2 linked regions of the Homo sapiens genome follow. The protein of the gene in region 1 purifies or fractionates together with the protein of each later gene. This does not show direct contact. Each region holds a gene or a part of one and is shown on either strand. Other genes may lie near its edges.

Region 1 (10,182 bases):
GTGTTTTTAGTAGAGACAGGGTCTCGCCATGTTGCCCAGGCTGGTCTCAAACTCCTGAGTTCAAGCAATCCTCCTGCCTCGGCCTCCCAAAGTGTTGAGATTACAGACGTGGGCCACCATGCCAGGCCTTTCATTTAGATTTTTCCAATTGTTTGCCATTATACTTTTGTTGTAATAGGCAGCCTTTGTGTGAATTTTTGTGCACTTCGTAACTGAGTGTACACTTTGGAATTCCGATTGCTGGGTCTTAGGGAATGTGTATTTAAAATTGCCATTCAAGAAAACCATGCCAGATTTTAATAAAGTCAATAGTGTGAGTAAGCATTTATTTATATTCTCTCAGGCTGGTGTGTGATGAGCTATATGAGTCAATTCAAAAGTTAAGATACATAGTTTTACTTTTGAAGCTAAGACTTGTAGTATTTTCTTCTACAGATACACTTACATGAGTGAGCAAAGATGTGTGTGCGTGTGTATACAGTAAGTCCTCACTTAACATTGTCCATAGGTTCTTGGAAACTGACTTTAAGTGAAATGACGTAGCAAAACCAATTTTTTTCTCATCAGTGTTGCAGCAAAATGATATTGAATGAACCAGTGTCATTCAAGGGCCTGCTGTGTGTCATTTTGCTTAAAGTTGCAGTTGCCAAGAACCTACTGACCACGTTAACTGAGGACTTACTGTACATATAAACATATACCAGAGGTGTGTGCCATGAAGCCCGGCTAATTTTTAAAAGATTTTTGTAGGCTGGGTGCAGTGGCTCATGCCTGTAATCCCAGCACTTTGGGAGGGCGAGGCAGGTGCATCACGAGGTCAGGAGTTCAAGACCAGTCTGGACAACATGGTGAAGCCCCGTCTCTACTAAAAATACAAAAATTAGTCAGATATGGTGGCGGGCACCTGTAATCCCAGCTACTTGGGAGGCTGAGGCAGAATTGCTTCAACCCAGGAGGCGGAGGTTGCAGCGAGCTGAGATGGCGCCACTGCACTCCAGCCTGGGCAACAGAGCAAGACTCCGTCTCAGAAAAAAAAGAAAAAAAAGATTTTTGTAGAGATGAAGTCTCACTGTGTTGCCCAGGCTGGTCTTGAACTCCTAGACTCAAGTGATCCTCCCAACTCAGGCTGCCAAAGCACTGGGATTACAGGTGTGAGCCACCATGCCCAGCAGAATCAGACTTTTTATTACACTTACATTATTACACCACCGTTCAAGCATTCTACTCTCCATCTTCTACCTTACTCCCTCTAGAATACCAATTCCAACAAATGTTTGATATTGTTGGGACCTATAGTTCATTGATTCCATCTTTTCACTGTTGCACACCCCTCAGGTTCTCACTTCTCTCCTTACATAGTTTGAAGTTCAGAGTCAATAATTGTGGAGGCTTCCTTGTATACAACTTTAACTTATTTTTTTTCTCTTTCACACTTAATTATACTGGCTTGGCAAGACCATAGCCTTCGTATGGTAAGCAGAGTAATGGCCTCCCGAGGATATCCACATACTAATTTCTGAACCCTGTGAATATGTTACCCTCATATGGTAGAGAGGAATTAAGGTCACTAACCAGCTGACCCTAAAATAGGGAAATTGGAATATCTGGGTGAGCCCAGTGTAATCACAGGGTGCTTAAAAGTGGAAGAGGGGCTGGGTGTGGTGGCTCACGCCTGTAATCCCAGCACTTGGGGAGGCCAAGGTGGGTGGATCACCTGAGGTCAGGAGTTCGAGACCAGCCTGGCCAACGTGATGAAACCGTTTCTACAAAAATAGAAAAATAAGCTGGACGTGGTGGTACACGCCTGTAATCCCAGCTACCCAGGAGGCTGAGGCAGGAGAATTGCTTGAACCCAGGAGGTGGAGGTTGCAGTGAGCTGAGATCGCACCGTTGCACTCCAGCCTAGGCTACAAAAGTGAAACTCCATCTCCAAAAAAAAAAAAAAAAAAAAAAGTGGAAGAGGGAGGCAGAAGAGGAGGTCATAGTGACTCAGTGTGAGAAGGATTCAACCTATCCTACCTGGCTCGGTAGATGGGGGAAGGGGCTATGAACCAAGGAATGTGTATGGCCTCTGGAAGCTGGAAAAGCAAGAAGCACATTCTCCCCCTAGAGCCTCCAGAAAGGAACACAGCCTTGCTGCAACCTTAATTTTAGCCCAGTGAGACCTGTGTCAGACTTCTAACCTATATAACCTGCAAGATATAACCTGTAAGATAAAAGATAATACTTTGTGTTGTTTTAACATTTGTGATGATTTGTAACGGCAGCAATAGGAAACTAATACATTTTGCTAAATCCAACTCTGGCCCTCTCAGATGAACATGGTTGAAGAAACAATCATGTGACTGGTCTTACTTGAAATCCATCAATATCGATGTCAAGCAGGCCCTTCATGCTGCCTGGCAATCATAGTACATTTCTCTAATGTATTCACTCATCCATTGTACTAGATGCCTGTTTCATGCCTTCTTGCTTTTCAGACCCTCAACATCTCACCCTCATCTCTCTTGCTTCCAATTTCACTGGGTTGATAGAAGCAATCAGAAGACAGTTTCCAGAAGCTTCTTCCATATCAACCTACTTCCCAGCATTATTCCCTCTGTGTTCTTTGCCTTCTGTCCTGTTAGTATGGATGAACTCTCCATGCTTCTAGCTAAGGCACAACCCCTCCATTTGTGCAAAAGATCTCATCCCTTGTCACTCACTGGTATAAGGACTTCAGCCCACCAATTCTTTCATTGTTAAAAAAAAAAATCCTCTCTTGATCCTATTTTCATTTCCAGTTATTGCTCCATTTCTTCTCTTTCCTTTACAGCAAAATTCCAGGTGTCATATCATTGTCTACACTTGTCATTTCCTATTTCTTTTCTCCTAACTTCTGTTGAACTCGTCCCAATCAGGTTTTCACCCCATCACTTTACACAAACTGCTTTTATCAAAGTCACCAATGACATTCATATAACTAAATCCAACAGTCAATTCTCAATCTTCATCTACCTCGACCAGTAGTACTTGACGAAGTTAATCACTTCTCCATGAAACACATGATTCATTAGTCTTCCAAGGAGCCCTTGCTCTCCGGATTTTCTTCTTACTTCACTGACTGCTGCTTCAGATTCTGTTGATATTCCTCCTCATATCTTCTAAGATAATTTAAATCCCCAGATATGACATTTCACGCTGAAATACTTAAGTATATATTCCTTAAAAAGAACATATTCTTTTTTTTTTTTGAGACGGAGTCTTGCTCTGTTGCCCAGGCTGGAGTGCAGTGGCGCAATCTCAGCTCACTGCAACCTCTGCCTCCCAGGTTCAAGTGATTCTCTGCCTCAGCCTCCCAAGTAGCTGGGATTACAGGCACCTGCTACCACGCCAGGCTAATTATTGTATTTTTAGTATGGGGTTTCACCATGTTGGCCAGGCTGGCCTCAAACTCCTGGCCTCAGGTGATTCACCTGCCTCAGCCTCCCAAAGTGCTGGGATTACAGGCATGAGCCCCCTTGCCCGGTCAAAAAAAAAACCATATTCTTACAAAACCACCATGCCATATCACACCTAACAAAATAAATGAATTCATTGATATTATCTAATACATAGTCCATATTCAAATTTTTTTTTTTTGAGACGGAGTCTTGCAGTGTCATCCGGGCTGGAGTGTGGTGGCGCAATCTCGGCTCACTGTAAACTTCGCCTCCTGGGTTCAAGTGATTCTCCTGCCTCAGCCTCCCGAGTAGCTGGGATTACAGGCACCCACCACCATGCCCAGCTAATTTTTTGTATTTTTAGTAGAGACAGGGTTTCACCATGTTGGCCAGGCTGGTCCTGAACTCCTGACCAGTGATTCGCCTGCCTCGGCCTCCCAAAGTGCTGTGATTACAGGCGTGAGCTACCATGCCCAGCCTCAAATTTTTGAATGGTTTATCAGGATCCAAAGAAGGTCTACAACTTCATTTGGGTTTTATGTTTCTTGAACTTCTAATCTAGAACAGTTCTCCCCTCCCCTCCACTTTTATTTCTATGACAATGATTTGAATTAGTGTGATGTCTTCCTTGTAGTGTCATTAGTTTGTTCTGTCTCCTATAATTTAAACTAAAGGCTTGATAAGATTAAGCTTCAATATTTTTGGCATGAATACTTTATAGGGAAGGCTGTGTAGCTATATTGTGTCATATCAGGAAGTATATAACATCTGACTTTCCTACTTTCAATAATGCTATTGAAAGGTTGATCAATGGGTTCAGTGATTACAATCTGATTCCTCCTTTGCAAAGTTGCATTTCCCCCTTATGATGAGGAAGTAATACGTTCAGGATAGCTTAGTATTCTGTGAATATCCAGTTCCCCACCAACCCATCAGGCTTTCAACCATTGATAATTATTGCTCAAATCAGTTTTTTTTTTTAAAGAGATGGGGTCTCCCTATGTTGCCCAGGCTGGTCTTGAACTCCTAGTCTCAAGCGATCCACCTGCCTCAGCCTCCCAAAGTGTCAAATCAGTTATTAGAGATTACAAAGTGGTGATTTTCTTTTCTGAGACGGAGTTTCGCTCTTGTTGCCCAAGCTGGAGTACAATGACGCGATCTCAGCTCACTGCAACCTCCACCTCCCGGGTTCAAGTGATTCTCCTGCCTCAGCCTCCTGAGTAGCTGGGATTACAGGTGGGTGCCACCACACCCGGCTAATTTTTTGTGTTTTTAGTAGAAACGGGGTTTCGTCATGTTAGCCAGGCTGGTCTCCAACTCTTGACTTCAGGTGATCTGCCTGCCTTGGCCTCCCCAAGTGCTGGGATTACAGGCGTGAGCCACCAAGCCTGGCTGCAAAGTCGTGATTTTCTAGTTTCACCGTTCTTTGTGTATTCATTAGCTGGAATTCTATAGATGATCTTAATGTTGGAATGCCATGTCTTTTTTTTTTTTTTTTTTTTTTGAGGCAGGTCTGGCTATGTTGCCCAGGCTGGTCTCGAACTCCTGAGCCCAAGTGATCCACCTGCCTTGGCCTCCCAAAGTGCTGGGATTACAGGCATGAGCCACCATGCCCAGCTGTCTTTTTTTTTTTTTTTTTTTTTTTTTAATACTCCTTCCTTGGGTGATCTTATCCAGGTTCTTGGCTTTAAATCTCATCTCTGTGCTGAGAACTTTCACATTTTTTTAGTAAACCTTTTACTTTGGCATTATTTTATTTTATTTTTAAAGTTTTTGGGTTTATTTATAATTGACACATAATTATACATGTTTATGGAGTACAGTTTTATTTCTGTTTTTTTAGAGACAGGGTCTCGCTCTGTCATCTAGGCTGGAGTGCAGTGGCGCCATCATAGTTCACCGTAATCTTGAACTCCTGGACTCAAACGATCTTTCTGCCTTGGCTTCCAAATGTGCTGGGATTACAGGCATGAGCCATTGCACTTGACCAGTTTTATTTTTGACCAACAATAATTGTATATATTTGTGGGGTACAATGTGATGTTTCAATGCACGTATACATTGTGAAATGATCAAATCAGGCTAATTAACATATCCATCACCTCAAATACTTATCATTTCTTTGTGGTGAAAAAATTTAAAATCCATTCTTCAGCCTGACCAACATGGCGAAACTCTGTCTCTACTAAAAATACAAAAATTAGTTGTGTGTGGTGGTACGCATCTGTAGTCCCAGCTACTCGGGAGGCAGAGGCAGGAGAATCCTATGAACCCAGGAGGCGGAGGCTGCAGTAACCTGAGATCATGGCACACTGCACTCCAGGCTGGGTGACAGAGGGAGACCCTGTCTCAAAAAAAAAAAAGTTCATTCTTTTAGCTATTTTGAAATATATGATTCATTATTATTAATAATAGTCACCATGATGTGCAGTAGATCACTAGAACCTATTCCTCCTGTTTAACTGAAACTTTGTACCATTGACTAACATTTCTCCTTTCCCCATCTACCCCTATCCCCCCAGCCTCTGGTAACTACTGTTCTACTCTCTACTTCTTTTCTAGATTCCATGTATAAGCGAGATCATGGAGTATTTGTCTCTCCGTGCCTGGTTTATTTCACCTAGCAAAATGTCTTTTAGGTTCATTCATGTTGCAAATCAGAATTTCCTGCCTTTTAACGGCTGAATAATTTTTCATTGTGTGTATATACCACATTTTAAAAATCCATTCATCCTGTTGATGGTGACTTTGGTTGTTTCCTTTTCTTGGCTACTATGAATAATGCTGCAGTGAACACGGGAGTGCAGGTATCTCTTCAATATACTGATTTCAGGTCCTTTGGAAGTACCCAGAAGTGAGATTGCTGGATCATATGGTAACTTTATTTTTAGTTTTTTGAGGAACCTCTGCACTGTTTTCCAGAATGGCCATACTTATGTATGTATTTATTTATTTAGAGACAGGGTCTCCCTCTGTCACCCAGGCTGGAGTGCAGTGGCACGATCTCGGCTCACTGAAGCTTGGGGCTCCTGAGCTCAAGCAGTCCTCCCACCTCAGCCCCCCAAGTAGCTGGGATCACAGGTGCACACCACCATGCCTGGCTAATTTTTTGTATTTTTGGTAGAGATGGGGTTTTGCCATGTTGCCCAGGCTGGTTTTAAACTCCTGAGCTCAAGCGATCTGCCCACCCTAGGCCTCCCAAAGTGCTGGGATTACAGGCGTGAAGCACCATGCCCAGCCCAGAATGTCCATGCTAATTTATAATAGTACCAACAGTATACAAGCGTTCCCTTTTCTCCACATCCTTGCCAACACTTGTAAGAGTTAAAGAAAGAGGAAAGAAACAAAATGCAGCTCAACAGTTAAAGGCAGGTTTACTTCAGATAAAACCTGAGAGGGGCTTCTGGCCGATTTTTGGTCAGGAGTGCTTTCTCTTACAGACTAAGAGTATATATTGGTTTTAGGGTGAGGGGGCTTATCACAAGCTTGGAATGTTTCTGTGTGAGGGAGAGGTTTTATGGCAGGGTTGGAATGTCTCTGGGAGGAGAGGAGGTTATCTTGGGGCAGACATCTTTCCAGCCAAGGCGGGTTATCTCAAGGCTGCCATCTTCCTGGCCAGAGGGGGGTTATCTTGGGGCTAGCATGTCTCTGGTTGGGGAGGAGTTTGGAATTGTGGGATATGATGAGGTTGCTCTTCAAATAGCCTGATCAATCCTTTATTCTTAATTTTTTTTTTTATTTTTTTTGAGTCGGAGTCTTGCTCTGTCTCCCAGAGCAGAGTGCAGTGGCGCAATCTCGGCTCACTGCAAGCTCCTCCTCCCGGGTTCATGCCATTCTCCTGCCTCAGCCTCCCAAGTAGCTGGGACTACAGGCGCCCACCACCACGCCCAGCCAATTTTTTGTATTTTTAGTAGAGATGGGATTTCACCGTGTTAGCCAGGATGGTCTCTATCTCCTGCCTCGGCCTCCCAAAGTGCTGGGATTACAGGCGTGAGCCACCGTGCCTGGCCAAGGTCTTGGACTTTTATAAGGCTTGGGGCTGTGTCTTCTAATGAGTTCTGTAGTTCTGTTGAAACAGCCTTAAAGTATGTTATGGAAGTGGCTAATCTGCTTGCTCTCAATCCAAGTCCAGAGGTTATACCCAAGGTGGCTATTAAGGGAATGACATGGATGGCCCTTCCTTTTCTAACATATTGGATGGGTGGGATGGGCAAAGGTCGATCAGGAGGAACAAGTCCAATGGAGGGAGATAGATAAACTAGGGTACAGGTTCCAGTCCAGTTGGTAGGGAGACAAAGGTATGTGTTGGTGCCACACAAAAAGAACAGGCCTTTGTCGTGTATACAGGCAGAGATATGGAAAGACAGTAGGTGAACTAAACATGGGGTGTTTTTTCTTTCCTGTGGTTCATTACTCCAAATGGACAAGGAGGAGGCCAGGGAGACACCTACTATAGTAGAAATATAGGAAGAGTTACTTTTTACACATTTAATGCAATAGGATGTTGCACCATTGATATTGAGCCATGGAAAAAGGTGGGCACCAGGCACAGCACAAGTTAGGCCATAGGCATTGGCTGAGAGAGAGGCTGTCAAACGAGCCAGTTGCGGAAATGCTCCATTTGCTTCAGGTGATACTGGGTAGTTAACTCGGTTAGTTTGATGGTCAGAGGGGTGTTTAATAATGATAGTACGGTTGCGTTGGTTAGGTGTTAAGGATCCTACAGGGAGATTTCCTTCAGAGGCTGAAAAGCAAAGTGAAGCTTGTTGTAAAAGGGGGGTGTGTTTAGTTATAGGCCCTTTAATGGGAGAGTCTTGAGGCTTGAGGCGTTGCAGGGAGTTGTAATAGGTTTGAAATAATTTGTTAGCCTGATTGGCCCTGGAAGTAGGATAATTGCCGACCAGGGTGTCAGCTCTTTCAAGAAAGGAAGCTCCCTTTTGGAGTGTATAAATTAGGGTTATGCTCCCTGCTAAAAGGTCATGAAGGGATGCAGGAAGGGCTGTGTAGGCTGAGGAAGACAGCGATAAGCACATCCAGCATTCAGGAGCAAAGGAAGAGTTAGTTCGCAGCAAGAGGGATTGTGTAAGGTTTATAGTTCGAGCTTGAGAGCAGTGAGAAGTGGTTGTATTGGTGAGGTTGATGTACTTAGGGTATTTGTATTGAAAAAAAAACAAGCAAAAAGCGAAAAAGGTTATTTGGGTAAGAGTAAAGTCCTGGAAAGTTCCTTGAAGCCATAGGTCCCATAGAACAGTAAAGAGCTGATCAGGATATATAATGGGAGTTTCGTAAGGGTACCGCTGAAGGACTGTAACAAGGTTGATTAGGAAGCAGTGAAAGTTTGGGAGAGAAAGAGACATAAGTGGTTTAGGTGAATTTCTCTTCCTTTTCTTCCAAGATTCGGGTGAGGCAAAGGGAAGTGGGTCCTGTGGAGACACAAGAGAAGGCTGAAGGGGTTTTGGATTTGGTTGTTTGGGTATGTGGCAAAGGGAAGTCTGTTTTCTTGAGAGAAGTATAATGAAACCAGTTGGGGAGTCCCTGGAGTTTTGCTGCTGTGGGTATGGTAAGAATGATTTGGTAAGGTCCCTTTGTTAGAAATGTTTGTTCCCTGGTGCCATAAAGAAATAGCACTTGAACATAAAATTAATTTCCTCAGCAAGGCCATTTTTACTTTCTGCAGAAAGAGCACCCTCGCCAGCAGTTTTGCCATGAGAGTACACCGAACAAAGGAGACAGGGTCATTTATAAACTGACGCTTCCACCCTACTGCTGTGTCCAGTTTCCATTGGCTGGAACGGGACCTCACATTCTGTATTTGTCCCGATTGGCTAGCAACTTAGAACTTTTTAAAAGAGGCAAAGACAGAGGAGAACAAAGGAAGGAGGAAGTAACTTGTGGAATGCTGAGAAAGGTAAAAACACCTTCAAATAAGGAAGAGGAACAGGCTATGACCTAATGTTTGCTTGGACTAGTATAAGCATGCCAGGGCAAATATTTAGGCTAAATTGTAGGAGCTAAGAACATAAAGTACATTGATTTCTTTATTACGGCTGGCCGATATTTAAGGATGTTAGCACAGGTCTTTGAATAAATTTTGCTTCTAAGAGAAGTTACTATTTATTCCTAATTAGGTGGGGAGGAAAGTCTTTGAAGAGGAACCTCTACTTTACTTTTTACACCTTCCATTTAGGTGTGAGGGGGGAATTGGGGGTAGGACTGGGATCTTTTATGAGAACCCAGTCTTCTGGCTATAGGAAGGGATTAGAGGAGTCAGTGATGGGTTGTGGCAGGTATTTGTCAGCATATTCCCAAATGAAATGGCGGATAATATACAGAAGAGGGGAAACAAGGGGAGTTGGTAGAGGTGGTGTTTGACCCTGAGGTGGAACAAAAGGGGCCAGTGGTTTCCCATACATGAGTTCAAAGGGGCTGAGCATTAAGGGTTTATGTGGGAATGCCCAAATTTTTAGAAGGGCCAAAGGCAAAAGTGTAACCCAGTCTTTAAGAGTTTGGAGTGAGTACCTGGTGAGGGTGGTTTTTAGAATGCCATTCATTTTTCCAACCTTTCCTGAAGATTGAGGTCGATAGAGGATATATAGCTTCCAGGTGATATGTAGAGCTGGTGCAAGTGTTGAGTAATTTGAGAGATGAATTCAGGACCATTGTCGGATTGAAAAGAAAGAGGCACCCTGAACCTGGGTATGATTTCCATTATTAATTTGGAGGTGACAGTAGAAGCCCATTTGTTGGTTGTGGGAAAAGC
Region 2 (9,652 bases), on another chromosome or scaffold:
GGGTGGGGGTCGGCATCCCGAGGGGCGGGTCCTGGAGTGCAGGGGACGCGCCCCCCACCCTGCAGGCTACAGACACAGCCCCTGTGATTCAGCAGGTGCTTCAGACAACATCCTCCTTCCTCCTTCCCACCCCGCCCAGCGAGGGGGCGGTGGCGCCCTGGGGCCCTCGCCTTGACCCCAGGCCTGGCGTCGGTGACCCGCACCCCCACCCTGAGCCCCGAGGGGACATCCGCACCAGGGACGGGGCGGGGGGTGGGTGCCGCCTGACTGGGCATCCGCCTTCCTGCCGTGGGCGTGCGATGATTTGGGGTTGACTGGGCGTTGGGAGGGGCAGAGGGGTCTCAGGAAGGTGCTCCCAGGCCACTCTCTGAACCTGTGCCCCTTCCCCTGGGGGCTCCCGGTACTGGGGCCCCTAGAGATGGGATAAGGGGTGGAGGTCACATCATTGAACAAACACCCCAAATCCTCTGGGCCAAGTGATGTTCCTCTTTGGGCCTCTGTTCTCCCATCTATAAAATGGGAGCCCAATTACTTCTCATAGGCAACTCTTGTTACCTGAGGAAATACAGGTTACAAAATTTAAAAAAAGACATGAAATAGTGTTATTGCCTCATCTCTGCCCAGCCCGGACATGGGTGGAGGTGGGACCCCAGAGAGGACTCAGTCCTGGTGAGGCTCACGGGGAGCTCCAGGCTAGGGACAGAGAGAGGGAAGGGTGGGGTCTGCGGGACGGGGTGGACAGGGGTGGAAGGCGCAGGCTGGGGAAGTTCCCAGACAGCAAGGGACAGCCGGACCAGGGGTGTTCCTAGACAGGGGGCAAAGGCCGGGAGGTTTGGAGCTGAAGGCCAGGTCTGGGAAGGGCTGGAATGTCAGGAGGTGTGGCCAGAGAGGCCCCCCAGGGCTGGGTCAAGCCAGGCCTGTATCACCTGCCAGCCCAAGGTACCCTGCGGAGTCCTAGGTCCTCCCAGTCGGCCTGGTGATCTCCCTGCAGCAAGCCACACAGATGTGAGACTCCAGGAAGGGGAGCAGGTGGGTGTGGCAGAGTGGGAGTCCCCGACTCCTGTGGCTGGGGAGAGCTGGTGGTCGCGTCTCCCCCATACTGGCAGGTCCTGAGGGGGCCAGGGTCCTGCCCAGGCCACGAAGCAGGCAGGCAGGCCCTCGCCCCACACCCTAAGGGACTTCCGGCCTTGGGTACCAGGAAGTGGCTGGGCTCCTCCCTCCCACCCTGGCTGCTTCCTGCCCACCCGGCAGCCGGGGAAGGAGCGTGGGAAATTCTCAGGGCCCTGACCCCTGCCCCACCCCCTCTTCGGGGCCTTGGGACCCAGGTCAGTCCCTCTGACTCCCTGAGCTGACATCCCACCCCAGGAACCCTCCCAACCAAGGCCAGATCCCCCCACTAGGCGAGCAGGCGGGAGTCAATGTGTGTTTCATTTTCTGTTTATTACTTGAAATCACGGTGCTCGTGTAGGTTTTTTTTTTTTTTTCAATTTTATGTTTTCATACATGAAACTCACGCCAGGTGCCGGGACCCCCACAGCCCGACCCCCCGAGGGCGGGTAATGCTTTCTTGGGCAGCCCTTACCGGGCAGAGGGTGGCGAGCCGGTTCCTGCCTGGAGGTTCCACCCTCAACCAGTGGAGGCACAGACGTTATTTAAAAATCGTTAAAAAACAAAACAGAACACACATTTAAATAGGTATCCAAGACAGTTCTTCAAAAAACAAACCCGCCCCTTTTACTCCTTTTTTTTCTATTTTTTTTTCTTTTTTTTTTGGAAAAATGAAAACAAAACAAAACCCAAAATCCTTGAGCTCTACCCTCTGGGACCCCTCCCTGCCCACCCTCCCACAAAAAAATTTACAGCGCTACAGTTATAACACGTGATGTTCACATCTGAAACCATTAACTTTCAACACATAAAGGGGGGGAGTTGAGGACCTGGGGTTCACCTACGAGAACAACGGTGGGGGACAGGCAGAGCCAGGACAAGACCGACAGGTGGGGTGAGGAAGGGTCCAGACATCTCCATTATCATTAAAAAATAAAAAGTGAGTGGGGAAAAAAATCCAAAAACTACCCCATTGAAATGGCCCCAGTAGGGGATTTGTCCCTCCCCTCTGGAGACAGACACCCCTAGGGCAGGGGCACTGAGAGGCAGGGGGTCCAAATTAGACCAGCAGCGGACCCCGCCACGGGGGTTAATGCTACACGGAGTTGTCGCCCCCTGCCCAGGGGATTCACAGCTCAGCACCCCCTCCCATCCTCGCTGCAGGAGGGGCCCCCAGACAGTCCCAAATCCACATCCCTCAGGTTGGGCCGGGAAGGAGGGCTCGGAGGGGGGAACTCCCCAGCACCCAGCCATTCTCTCCCCTTTTTCAAGAGTTCCCCAACCACTATTGGCTCAGTCAGAAAATTAATAGTCTATAAATACCCCAAACTCAGGCAGGAGGTCAGAAAACACGGGAGTGGGGGCGGAGGAAACAGCACAGTCCGCCGGCTGGGGCGGGGCGGAGGGCAGGCTGGGGGGGTAGTTCCCCTCTCCCTTCCCGACAGGAAAGGGTGCCATGCCCCTGCACCCAAACCCCATGGGGACCTCAGCCCCAGCCTCTGCTAAAACAGCTTTGCTCTCCTTGTTAAAGAAATGAAGGAAAATGCAAAAAAAAGATCAAGAAAAGAGGATAGGAGTGGAAGAGAAACAGTCCCCTCGTTGGCTTCTGTGACCTGTTGGCTTGCTGTAGCCCAGTGGGCGCTGCTGGCCTGGGGTGGAGACCCCGAAGTCTGCACTGGGGGGTGGGGTGGGTTCTGCGCACTGCGGCCCCTCCCCTCATCTGTAAAGTGCATAATGACATATCGACATTTTTGACTTAAAACCTGAATAGGGTCGGGGGGGAAAGGAGGCGGCGGAAGGGATGGGGCGCGTTTCTCCGTCTCCTTCACTCTCCGCCATCCAGAGAGACTGCTACATATTGGAGCTGGGGAAGGTTGGCAGGGAGGACCGACCTGGCGCAGAGGTGAAAGGAGACAGACGGAGGAGGAGGAGGAGGAGGAAGAGGAGGGCAGGAGTGAAGGGTGAAGGAGGTAGGAAGCAAAGCCCATGAAGAGTCCAGGAAACCACGGTCAGAACTTTTTAAAAAAAGAAAAAAATAATAAAAAAGAAGAAAAGAAAAAAAGACTTCTGGCTGGGGGAGTGGCCGCCTGCCCTCCAGGGCTGGGCCACGTTCTCTCCGGGGCTCTCGGAGTCCCCGCCGCCCTGGGCTGGGGTGCGAGGGGCGAGGGTGGCCGATCCGAAGATCCTAAGCCACCACGAACTCTGACTTGATGTCAGGGTTGACTTCTGGCTTCCACACGGAGTCCTCGAAGTCGAGGCCCAAGCCGGAGGCCTCGCTGGGGCTGCCGCCGCCCCCGCTGCTACTGCTGTCGCTGCGGCCGGCCTTGCGGCTGGGTGACCAGTGGTACGGACCCCGCGCGTCCCGCCGGGCCTTTCTACGGAGCCGTTTCTGCTGCAGAAGCAGCTGCAGCCGTTCCACCTTGCAGCGCGTGGCGCGGTTTTCTGTCTGCCGAAGCCGGTCCCCTGCAAAGGAGGTAGTGGCCTGTGACTCCCAAAGCCTCCACCTGCTGAACACAGAGGACCACCCCAGACCCCAGCAAATGCCCCTGAGGTCAGACACAGTCCTGCCCTCCCTGGAGGGAGGTCAGCAAAGGAAACAGTCAAGGACATCCACCATGCCGGGCACAGTGGTTCACGCCTGTAATCTCAGCACTTTGGGAGGCCGAGGCAGGAGAATCGCTTGAGCTCAGGAGTTCGAGACAGGCCTGGGCAACCTCAGGAGTTCGAGACAGGCCTGAGCCACAGAGCGAGACCCCTCCTCTACAAAAATTACAAAATTAGCTGGGCATGGTGGTGTTTGCCTGGAGTCCCAGCTACGCAGCTGGCTTCTAATTCTCCAGCTCAGCCATGAGCTGGGGAGGTCAGGACTGTCCTGCCTCATTCTTCCTGGAGTCCTACATGGAGGGGGCTTGGCCGCTTCTGTGATCCGAGGGGAGATACTTGGGGGTTGTACCTTGGTTTTTTTTTTTTTTTTTTGAGACGGAGTCTCGCTCTGTCGCCCAGGCTGGAGTGCAGTGGCGCGATCTCGGCTCACTGCAAGCTCCGCCTCTGGGTTCACGCCATTCTCCTGTCTCAGCCTCCCGAGTAGCTGGGACTACAGGCGCCCACCACCACGCCTGGCTAATTTTTTGTATTTTTAGTGGAAACGGAGTTTCACCATGTTAGCCAAGATGGTCTCGATCTCCTGACCTCGTGATCCGCCCGCGTCGGCCTCCCAAAGTGCTGGGATTACAGGCGTGAGCCACCGCGCCCGGCCAGTTTCCCACTTTTAAACTGAGCTGGGAGGAGCCCCCGCGACGGGTGCAGAGCCCAAGGGCAGTACAGTAGCCATCTTCTGGTGAGACTCTGGAGGGAGTAACCCGCCGTTTGGGAGTAGCTGGGGCCAGGCTGGCAGGGGGGTTGTGTTCGCTGCTTTTCCAAGTCACTGAAATGCTTAGGGGTGGGCTCTGGCCCCGCCTCGGCCTGCCAGGCCTGACTTGGCCATTCACAGAGGCACCAAATGCCATCTGGAGATGATGCCCCGGGTGGGGGTGGGGCAGGAGGAAGTGGGCCTGTGGCCCCCCGGGAGCACACAAGGACACTTTGTGCCCTGACACACATGCTGCCTTCTCTCCGGGCTGGAGCAGAGCAGTGGCCACGGCAGCTGCCATCCCCCCCAGCCCCTGGGCAGGTCAGCTGCTCCTGAGCCCACCAGCTCACACAGAGGGGCCTTGAGAAGCCCAGGCGGGCGGGGAAGGTAGGACCCCCGAGGGTGGCCACTCACCCGGGGGCTTGCACATGCGGATCTGGCTCTGGCCCTGCAGCAGGGAGGCTGAGGGGGCAGCCGTGAGCTTCTCGCAGGAGGTAGTTCTGGGGGCCAGGTCGGGGGCCGGTGAGGCCGGGGAGCACTGGGCGTGGCAGCGGAGCTGGGCCAGCGAAGGGGGCATGCCCTGGTAGTGCCGGGTGGCGCTCAGGAGGTCGTTCAGGATCTGCAGGATGGTGCCGATGTCACGCCGCGGCCGCCCGCTGCTGTCTTGGCAGTTGGGGTGTAGCGTGCCTGCGGGCAGAGGTGGCCGTGAGTGCCCGGCACGGGCACAGTCCCGCATGTCCAGGACGGGCGTCCACGGGTGTGAGCTCATGAGCTCAGGCAATGGCGTGGACATGTGGGCTGATGTGCACGAGGGACCACGGGGCGGGAGCGGGACACGTCCCCAGTATGCAGGCGCCTGGTGACCCGCGGCCCCCCGGGCAGGGCCAGGCGTGTGTGTGGGGGATTCCTGGGGGACATGTGAAGTGAGCAGACGGACACAGCCTGTGTATGCCCAGAATATGTGGAGTCGCCTGTGGGTGGATGTAGACCCCAAATGCACAGGGTCACGGGACACACGTGAGCTCACACATGTGCTGTGACACCTACCAGAGAAGGTCCCTGAGAAGACCCCCGGGGCGTGATTCACAAAGCTCTCGATGACGGCGCCGGGTTTTCGGGAGCGGGGGGCAGGGCTGGCCCCTGGGGTAGACGTGGTGCTGGCACCAGGACTGGCACTGCTGCTGGCCGTGGGGGAGCAGTCCATCTGCTGATGGGAGGAAGGGGCACATGAGCACGGGGTCCAGGATCAGGGGATCACCAGCAACCCAGGGACCAGAGATCACCCACCAGCCCAGGTCAGGAGATGACCTGTCAACACAGGGTTTAGAGATAAACTAGCCCAAGGTCACGAGGTCACAACCAACCCAGGACACAGAGATGACCCATGAGTCAAAGATCAAGAGATCATCTACTGGTCCAGGTCATGTCAGGCGATGACCGTCAACTCAGGATCTAGAAATACCCCACCAATCTAGGCTGGGGGATCACCCACCAGCCCGAGGTCACAGGATAGCCCTTAATACAAGGGACTCACCTGGGACTAAGAGTCCTTGTCCTCCCCAAGACCTCCCCAGGACGGCCCACCCTTTGGATTCCAACCAAGGGTCACCCTTCCCTTCCCCAGGCTCACCTCCGGGCAGGTGGTGGAGGCTGCGTGGGACCGGAAGGAGCCGGCTGTGATGGGCGAGGGAGATGCAGGGGACGGGCTGGTGGGCACCGGGGGGACTCGGGCGGCACTGGACACCGGCCGGCAGGGCGAGGACACGGGGGAGGCTATGCTGGGGTCCCCCCGCGCAGCAGCGGCGGCGGCCGCAGCGGCCAGCACATGGCGGTGTTGCAGTGGAGCGTGCTGGGCCGCGAGCTGCAGCTGCACGAACATCATGTGGTCGCCCACACGCAAGGCCAGTGTCAGTGGCGAACGGCCCGACAGGAAGTCACTGACCTGCAAGGAGAGCGGTCCGTCAGCTGGGAGCCCCAGCTTGCGGCGCCCCCAGCCCAGCCCGGCCCAGTCCCCCCGCGCTGTGACCTGGGGCCTCTCGCCGCCCCTCTCTGGGCTCTGGGGTCCCTGTCGGTGCCACGGACGCTTAAATAAAATGAATCTGTATTTCCGGAAGCCTCCTCCGCCAGCCCGGCCCGGCCCGGGCGCCGCTGGGGGCTGTGGGGACAGAGGCGGGTCAGACGGGGGCCTGCCCCTCCCTGGCCAACTAGGTCGGTCTTGCAAGGGGAAACTGAGGCCAGAGGGGGCGGGGCCCAGCTGGCAGTCACTGACCTCAAACAACCTTCACTTTGCCTTTCCCCCACCCTCATGGGCCCCTAGATCCTCTCTGCCTGTGGATACGGGAGGGGCTCCACCTCAGGCCCCCTCCCAGCTAAGTCACCAGGGCCAGCAAGTGGGTGGAATTCCTGCACGAATTCTTCTGTCCTAACCTTTGCTTTCTCAAGATAAATATTTATCTGTCCTGGGCGGGGCGGAGGCCTAGGGGGCTGTGGCAAGGCTGCAGGAAGGGGCCCTGACCGCCCTGGGGCTGGAGTCCCGGAGGGCACAACCTGCTCCAAGCACAGAAACCCTCAATCTGCCCCCGTTCAGGGTGGGTGTGGGTTGAATCTCACCCTGTCCTCGCCAAGCCCCCTGCTCTGGGTATGGGCCAGAGCCCTGCTCTCCCCAGTGGCCGGGATGGGGGGGGGGGTGGCGGAGGTTTCTGAGAAGTGACATAGGCTGGGATGACTCAGAACCGACCGCCTCCCAGCTCTCCCTCCCGGCTCTCCTCTCCACTGGCAGTAGCTGGCGTAACCTTCTCTGCTTGGGGCCCATGGGGAGGGAGGCAGGGAGGAGGGCAGGGTGAAGCCCCCACCCTGCGGCCCAGCCTGCCCGGCCCCCTACCCCCCTGCCCCAAGACAGCCTTTGCAGGAAGGGCCCGGGGTGGCTTCCCGAGAGCAGCTGGAGTCCCCACCACCACCCGCCCTGCAACTTCCTCCCTGGGGAAGGCTAATGGGCGGGCATGACTCGGTGCCAGGCAGGGAAGCAACCCTGGGGAGCCCAGTGTCTCCGCCCAGCACCCCCTCCAGCCCCCCCCAACCCAGCTCCTTCCTGACGCAGGCGCCCAGGGAGGAGGGTGTGAAGCCAACACGCCCTGGGCCCCCTGCCAACCGCAGCCCCCCAGCGGCGGGGAGCTCTGCTCACACTCGCCCCAGGAAATCACCTGCAGCCCCCGCCCTGGCTCGGGACCCCGGCTCTGCCCCCACGCCACTGCTGCTGCTGCTGTGGCCACCCCCATGGCAGACCACCCAGCTCCCGGCCCCCGCCCTGCCCCCGCGATGTAGGGAAAGGGCAGGACTCTACATGCCGCTGGGAAAGCGGAAGGGGGTGCGGGCCTCGGGGCCAGGGAGGCCCGGGAAGCCGGCCACCCCTTGCTGGGGCGGGTGGCAGCCTGCGTCCCCCACCCTGGCAGCGGGCGGATTGCTGAGGCCTGTGTCACCCTCCTGGGAGGTGGCCAGGGCCCTTGTCTGAGGAAGGCTTGGCCGCAGCCAAGAAAATGAGGAAAGAAGGAGAAAAAAAAAAAAAAGTCCGCAGCAAAACCGGGAACCGGGTGAGGGCCAGCCCCAGCCTCCCTCCTGGCCGCTTACTAAATATTTTCCTAACATCCTGTCTAGGCCTCACTGGCCCCAGGGCTGGGCACCCCCGCCCCCTCCCCTTTCGGGGTAGAGAACAAAGGCCAGAGAGAGGAGGGGAGGGTGACGAGATCCCCACCCTCTCACGATGGGGGTCACGGAAGGCGGAAGGAGTGTCACCCAAGCCGCCACCCCCAGCCCTCAGCAGAAATGTAAAAAAGGAGAAACTCGCTCTGGGGAAGCCACAGCGGCTGGAGGGGGGCTCCTCGGTGGGGGCGGAGGGGGCTGGGGATGCAGGCCAGGGTGTGAGCGGGGATGAGGCCCCATAGGCCAAGGTCATCCTGCAGGCAGTCTTGTGAAAGCCAGGCCCCCTTCCCCCAGGGCAGCCACCGTGGGAGAGAAAGCCCTCCGGGTCAGGTGGTGAATCTTGGGGGAGAGGAGGTGGGGAGGCCAGGCCAGGCTGGCACCCAGGCGGGGTGGCGCGTCCCCTCCCCTCCCCCAGCCTCCTGGGAGCACAGACAACCCCCAGGCCCCGTCGGTGGCCAAGGCACCCTGCTCCCAGGGCTGCCCTGTTAGGAAGGGGCTGGCGAGGTCTTACCTGCGTCTCCGTGAGACTCTCGAGAGCTTGCATCACGGACTGTTCCGGCCTTGAGGCCTGAGACTACAAAGAGAGGGAGGAGAGGGGCCTGAGTGTGGGGTCGGAATCCTGGGCTGGAATAGGGGGTGGAGAGGGCCCTGCTGGCTGGCGGGGTGGGGGCCCCAGGTAGTGTGTGTGCGGACAGGTACCGAGGGAGGGGCTACTGCCTGTGTGCGGGGGCCTCTGGGGGCACGCAGCCCCATGGCCATTTACCATGAGGCCCGCTTCCACGGTGGGTACCAAGGTCAGCTTGCTGCCATCACCCACGCCGAACTCCTGCAGCTTCCCCGAACTGAGCCGGCTGGGGGGAGGAAGGAAGAGCATGAGACTCCGCGGAGACGACACAGGGACGCGGAAGCAGAGGCCGCGGGGGAGGGCTGTGCTTGTGTGGGGAGAGACGGATAAGTTCCCACCCCCACCCCTTCCCGGCTTCCAGATCCAGGGCCCTAAGCGCGTGCAGAGAGGTCTCCGTCTGGTGCTGGGAGCCCCATCCTGGCGATTCGGACCCCTTCCCTCCAGTGGAACCCCCGCCCTGGACTCTGGCACCCCCTCTGCACCCCAACCAGGCACTTTCTCCTCCTCTGGGCCCCAGTGTGCTCTATGCCACCTTCCCCCACGACCCCAGGGCAGCCCCTGCCCCCAATTCCCTAATTCTAGTCCTGGCTCCTCTTTGTAGGAACCACGGGTTTCGGCCCGAGGAGAGGCCCTGGGGGTTGCGCCGGGCCGGGCTCCCCCTCCTCCTCCCTCCCCGGCGCAGGCGGCCGCCGCCGCGCAGACAAAGGAGACCCTCCCCCTCCGCCCCTCCCCCGATGGGCCCCTCCACTGGGATGGACACTGCGTGTCCCCGGAGGCCCGCGGGGGGAGGGCTCCGGGCCTGCAGGCGATTTAAATACCAGGGGGGAGGGGAGGCTGCGGGGAGCGCTCGGAGGCGAGAACAAAGGGGGGGAGAG

Evidence for each region.
Region 2: the proteins of ERCC6L (region 1) and MIDN purify together in Homo sapiens (affinity purification with mass spectrometry; 2 studies listed by BioGRID and IntAct, with this or other methods). This does not show direct contact.

Annotation. Positions count from the first base shown.
Region 1 is NC_000023.11:72,227,161-72,237,342, reverse strand, and holds part of ERCC6L (DNA excision repair protein ERCC-6-like), read left to right. Parts: intron 1-10,182. UniProt on the Homo sapiens protein: DNA helicase that acts as a tension sensor that associates with catenated DNA which is stretched under tension until it is resolved during anaphase. Functions as ATP-dependent DNA translocase. Can promote Holliday junction branch migration (in vitro).
Region 2 is NC_000019.10:1,250,913-1,260,564, reverse strand, and holds the end of MIDN (midnolin), read right to left. Parts: intron 9,004-9,652; coding exon 8,916-9,003; intron 8,727-8,915; coding exon 8,664-8,726; intron 6,612-8,663; coding exon 6,483-6,611; intron 6,399-6,482; coding exon 6,087-6,398; intron 5,664-6,086; coding exon 5,504-5,663; intron 5,144-5,503; coding exon 4,871-5,143; intron 3,571-4,870; coding exon 3,293-3,570; 3' UTR 1,422-3,292; downstream 1-1,421. UniProt on the Homo sapiens protein: Facilitates the ubiquitin-independent proteasomal degradation of stimulus-induced transcription factors such as FOSB, EGR1, NR4A1, and IRF4 to the proteasome for degradation. Promotes also the degradation of other substrates such as CBX4.